Regions from separate parts of the Homo sapiens genome. Here region 1 is linked to region 2. Evidence: fine-mapped expression QTL. A gene starts in region 2. The other region holds a variant in brackets. All regions are shown on one strand. Distances are from middle to middle. Region 1 overlaps LOC101929532 (a long non-coding RNA gene). Region 2 holds the start of DPP4 (dipeptidyl peptidase 4).

Region 1 (2,909 bases), 45 kb before region 2:
GGATCCCCTCTGCTCTAACCTACTCAAGTCATTGTTCCAGCCATTTTCTTCTCTCCTCTCTCATCAGTGTATCCTCTCTTTTTTGTCTGTATTGTCTGGTAAAACCTTTCATCATCCTATTGTCTTTGTAGCTAATGCCCATTCTTTTCCTTACCTTAAGAAAAAAAAGTAACAAAACAAAACACAGCTCTTTGAAAAAGCTGTTTATCATTGCCTCTAATTTAGCTGTTCCTGCTCTCTGTTGAACCTACTCTAATTGAAATTTATTTCATTTTTTCCCCCAATTTGCTCCTATCAAGCTCACCAGTAACTTCCACATTGCTAAATCCAGTGCTCAATTCTCAGGCTTCATCTTCCTTGAAAAGAATTTGACATTTGACAGAATTTTTCACTCTCTCCCTCTTAGAAACTCTCCTCACCTGGCTTCCAGAATATGTTGCTGTCTTGGGTTTCCTCTGTGTGACAGCTATGAAGGAAGAAAAGAGCAGAGTGTTGGTTGGAATTGCACAGGTCTCCGTATTCATTAGGAGATTAGGTCAGAAAGAAAAGCAGTTGAAGAGAGAAGGCTCAGGTGGCTCACTTGGGACTGAAAGAGAGCGAGAAAATGACCTTTGCATGACGTGACAGGAAGACATTGAGCCTGATAAGATCATCTCAGTGAGCAGATGGATATTGACATTCAGCACATCAGGTCCTGAAGATCAAGGATCTAAGCAAAAAGCCAAGAGATGCAGCAATGACAGGGAAGGGTAAAGATAAGGGTAATAATATCAAAAATCCCAACTTCAGCGTGGTAACCAGATTGTACTAATGCATATATATGTACTACCATGCATATATTTACTGTCTAACTTTTACAAAGTGTTTTCACATCTATTAATTGATTTCTTCACAGTATCCCTAGGCAACACAACTATTGTTATCCTAATTATATAGATGAAGAAACTGAGGCTTGCAGAGGTTAAAACAACTGTCTAAGATTATACCAGGAATTTTAACAGAGTTGGGACTAGAAGCCTGATCCAGAAAAATCAAGAAGCAGTTCCCAGGCAGTTTCTTTCTAACACAGAAATCCTGGGCAACTGAGTCAGAAGCATCTGATGGCTTGGTCCAGAGAGACCAGAGAATCAGCATCAGATCTTGAGACTGGGTGCCAGGTATGGATGGCACAGGGCTGGGTGGAAATATGTAGCAATACTGACAAGCCAGCGTCTGTGTAAAGGGCACTTTATGAAGGCCAGGATCCCAGTAGAAGGAGATGAGCTGAGCTGAGCTGAGCTGAGACAGGTAGCCTTAGCAGGTGGGTTCACCTGATTGAGGGGGTACAGTGGAGGTAGAGGAAGACAAGTAATATCTGACAATCATCCCAAAGAATAAATGAACCCACAATTCTCTGTGGAAAATCTGATGTTTAGTTCCCAGAGTTGTTAGGCCTCCAGCCTAGGGAAGAGGAAAATATTTGATGTTTGATAGCCATTGGAGACTGAGTGAGAGATGGGAAAGATAGATTTTTTCCCTCTTAAATTCATCATTTGAGGAATTTTAAACAGTCCATGGAAAGTGCATAATCCTCACAAAGTAGAGGAATAAACAAGTTATTTCCTTGACCTGCCATTTGTCACTCTCGTTGGAACAGGATTTTTGAAATTTCCAGTATAAGAAGTATATTGAACAAGCATGGCCCATTGTGAAATCACAGCACTCCCCTTCAAGTGTTCAGTGGAGTTAA[C/T]CTTCCCTTGCCCCAGTTGAACATTCACGTGCATCCCAGGACTTTTCTAGATACTCTTGGGTGTGTATGTGAGGACAAGAACGTCCTACAATCCCTTTAGTAACAAGTGAGTGGAATTCAGTAATCAGAACATCTTACATAACCAGAAACTGAAACTGATTTAGCACTAAACCTTTTCCTGTCCCTGTTCCTTGGCTGCTCCGCTGTGGATGGCTTATTCTCTATTCCTCACCTAGTGCTTTCCCTCCTCCCTTCTGATGCCCTCCCCGCAGCTTGCCAGCCAGTTTCTGGGCTAAGGCCAGAGCTAGAAGAGAGACATGGTAAAGGGCCAGGAAATGTCCTTCTTGTACTGGCTTCGGGCTTTCCAGGCCTGGCAAATGTTTGCAGATGAGTCTTTCTTTCATGGGCACTTTCACGGGCATCCTGTAGGTTCCCTGGTGGGCCCCTGCCCTGCAGTCCTGTCCTGGGTTAATGCATCCTATTATGGGTGGCCCAAGGTAGGTAGGGTGACCAACTATCCCAGCTTGTCCAGGAATATTCCCATTTTAGCCTAAAGGGCCCACATCTTGTGAAACTTCTGAGATCCGGGCAAACCAGAATGGTTAGTCAGGGGTTACTCATGAGTCCTTCTGTAGCCCTTAATTATCTGATATTAACTTCAACTTCTGGCTTCTGGCCCTTCAACCATCTAGGGTCCTTGTACAAATTCATAAAAAACCCACACTGACTCACTTGCCCAATCACCCCACACATAGCTAGTCCACAGAAAATATTCCTTTGCCTTTGAAATCTGAAGGTATAAGCTTTCCATCCTGCCTGAATTCAATATTTGTGAAAGTCATCTCCATGTGCATAGGCAAAGCAGCTCGCTGGCCTCCCTTCCCCTTTTCTGGAGAGAATTCAGGATTGTCCTGGGCCCATTTGAATGGATTCATTCCCATCACCTCTGAGAAGGCTTGGCAATGGCCAAGGGGCCTCAAGGGGTACCCAGTCTGGGCTTCTTGGAAAGATGCATATTATTTGTAGATGTGGTCAAATCTGCTATCACCCTTATGCTGTATCTGCTGAGCCTACAAATTACAAATTTCCCTAACCATGGAGGCCCCTATCTAGGTCTGTTTTATATGGTGATAATAAATACCTTACTGATTAAATCACCTTTTAAAAACACTAATTTTAG
Region 2 (2,854 bases):
AGATCTACACTGACTCATCAGTGGTGGCTAATGTGTTGGCCAGCTGCTACCTTAAGGATTTGGAAAAAACAAGATTGAAAGACTGGTGACACAGAGGTCAAGGTGGGGGAGGCATGTGAGAGAGTCTCTTGAAATGGGCACAGGGTGTGAAGATATTTGCGTCTCATGGAGTGCCCTCCAGAGAACAAATTGACCTGTCCCGTAGATGTCAGCCAGCCTCCTGCCAGCTTCCTTGGGGCTTGCTGAATGTACAATGAGTGCCATGGTGCTGGCATGGAGATGAAGCACAGGCTTAACTCTCCAGACTTCCTTCACCGAGGCTGATGTGGCTTACCAATGCTGAGTGAGCAAAATGCTGAGAGTGAAGGGCAGCACTGAGCCCCCTGTGGCACCATTCCCCGTAGTCCGTGTTAAATGGCCTCTCTTCACAGCATCAGTTCACAGGGTCCAGTAACACCATTGACTCATCTTCCTCAGCAGTTGGAAGAGGGAGGAGGAGAGTTAGTTTCAGCCTCTGGAGTTGGGGGTGAGTGAGGATACTGATGTATCACAAGCAACTAGTGGGCAAGGGGGAAAAGATGACTGAGTTCAAAAGCAATGCCTGGATTGGAAATAAAAGATGGAAAATTGCATTAATTCATAATCATGTGGTAATGCCCCATCGGACTCTGCATTCTTAATCTTTTACCTCTACTGACAGAGAGGCTTTGCTTTTCAGCTGCTGTGAACAAGCTGAAGAGGCCTTATCCTCTTATCTGCAAGAGTGGAAGTAATCACAGGGGGCCCTAAAGGCAAATGTTTACCTGTGTATTTTATCGTGAAAGTGCCAAGGGTCCAGACCTCACCTCTCTTGTCCCACTTTATCTCCAGTACCTAGAAGGGAGGCTGGCACATTGTAACCACTCAAACATCTGTGGATGACTGGAATAAATGGGAGGATGTAGGAATGAATGAACGAATGAATAATCCTTTAGGGAACAATAGAGAGCTGGGGGAGGGAGAAGCCATACCTGATCTTTTATTCTTCTCCAAAACCCTTGAAAAGACTATGAGAGGCCGCATAGAGTAGCCATTAAGACCTTGAACTCTTAATTTAGGATCTACAACTTCCTAGCTGAATGGCTTGGCCAAGTTATTTATTCTCTGTGTACAGTCTTCCTTCCTGTAAAACAAACACAGTAAATGCTTAGAGCAGCACCTGGGAAAAAGTCAAGTTCCACATAAGTGTTACTGTCATTATTTTTGTCATCTTGATGAGTGTGTAAGCCTGCAAGACAATCGGGAAATTCCCTAGGGAGGGTGAATCCAGATACTCAGCTTCCAAGGGCCATTCAAGAGGGAACAATCACCTTTTCTCTTTGCCTTTCATACTGCTTTAGACCCCTCACTGCTTCCTAACATAACTTTCACTGGCAAGAGACGGAGTCCTGGGTTTCAGTTCCAGTTGCCTGCGGTGGGCTGTGTGAGTTTGCCAAAGTCCCCTGCCCTCTCTGGGTCTCGGTTCCCTCGCCTGTCCACGTGAGGTTGGAGGAGCTGAACGCCGACGTCATTTTTAGCTAAGAGGGAGCAGGGTCCCCGAGTCGCCGGCCCAGGGTCTGCGCATCCGAGGCCGCGCGCCCTTTCCCCTCCCCCACGGCTCCTCCGGGCCCCGCACTCTGCGCCCCGGCTGCCGCCCAGCGCCCTACACCGCCCTCAGGGGGCCCTCGCGGGCTCCCCCCGGCCGGGATGCCAGTGCCCCGCGCCACGCGCGCCTGCTCCCGCGCCGCCTGCCCTGCAGCCTGCCCGCGGCGCCTTTATACCCAGCGGGCTCGGCGCTCACTAATGTTTAACTCGGGGCCGAAACTTGCCAGCGGCGAGTGACTCCACCGCCCGGAGCAGCGGTGCAGGACGCGCGTCTCCGCCGCCCGCGGTGACTTCTGCCTGCGCTCCTTCTCTGAACGCTCACTTCCGAGGAGACGCCGACGATGAAGGTGAGTGCCGCGCCACGTACGTCCCCGGGGCGAGCTGTGGGGACCTCTTCGCCAAACTCCCCAAATGGCCCAAAAGCTGGCGAAACCGGACCAGGGACTCCCCTTAGGCGGAAGCCCCAAGGCCACCCTCTGACAGGTGAAGGGACGTCCCAGAGCTCTCGCTTAGCTTTCGGACCCTGGCTTCTGCTAGGACCCTGGCGTCGAGCTTTGAATGTCCCGGAGAGCCACTCACAGAACGCACGCCCGAACCCGGGCAGGGGTAGAGAAACCAACGCTAATGTGCTCTGAAGGCACAAGTTCAAGGGCACCCGCCTTAGAGAACTCCAACTGGCGCACTCCAGACGCCACCCCCACCCCCAGCCCGCGGTCTCCCTCTTCTAACGCACTCCCACCTGCAAATCCTGCTGCCTCTGGAGCAGCCCCGACCCTCCTACGGAAACTGGGGCCACACGCTTCCCTCTAATTGGACTTGATCTGCTCGGCTTGCAGACACCGTGGAAGGTTCTTCTGGGACTGCTGGGTGCTGCTGCGCTTGTCACCATCATCACCGTGCCCGTGGTTCTGCTGAACAAAGGCAGTAAGTTTGAAACATTTGAAAAAGATAGGACAGTTGGAGCTCAGGTCAGGCTCCGTCTTACCACGCTAAGGGAAACGAGGGATTTTGCGTGGGGTTGGACCAGTGCCCCGAAGTGTAGCTGAGAAGGCTTCCCAGTTGTTGTTGCTGCTTGTAGAGCAGCAGCTGGATTCACTTCGCGGGGTCTTCAGTGTTTAGGCTGAAACTCTTGCGGCTTTCACGTCTTGTTATGTATAATAAATGCATGCTTCCTGAAATTAGGGAGAGTCGGGATTTTTAAAATTTCAATTTTAAATTTAATTTGTAAATT

What was found. PIP is the estimated chance that this variant, and not a neighbour inherited with it, causes the effect.
Region 1: its variant is fine-mapped to the expression of DPP4 in lung (TOPMed, PIP above 0.99).

The regions. Positions count from the first base shown.
Region 1 is chr2:162,117,790-162,120,698 of GRCh38, reverse strand. The region is part of intron 1 of LOC101929532 (a long non-coding RNA gene); the gene reads right to left. Among named protein-coding and RNA genes, the nearest start is that of GCG, 33 kb to the left of the region's middle. The variant C/T (reference allele first, on the strand shown) is at 1,730.
Region 2 is chr2:162,073,092-162,075,945 of GRCh38, reverse strand. It overlaps DPP4 (dipeptidyl peptidase 4), which reads left to right and starts at 1,731. Exons shown (of 26, transcript NM_001935.4): 1 at 1,731-1,970; 2 at 2,460-2,547. The coding sequence starts at 1,965. DPP4-DT (DPP4 divergent transcript) reads right to left here and starts at 1,089. Exons shown (of 3, transcript NR_147697.1): 1 at 1,011-1,089; 2 at 335-468. RefSeq lists a promoter at 1-1,326, enhancers at 881-1,578, 2,013-2,212 and a silencer at 1,603-1,862.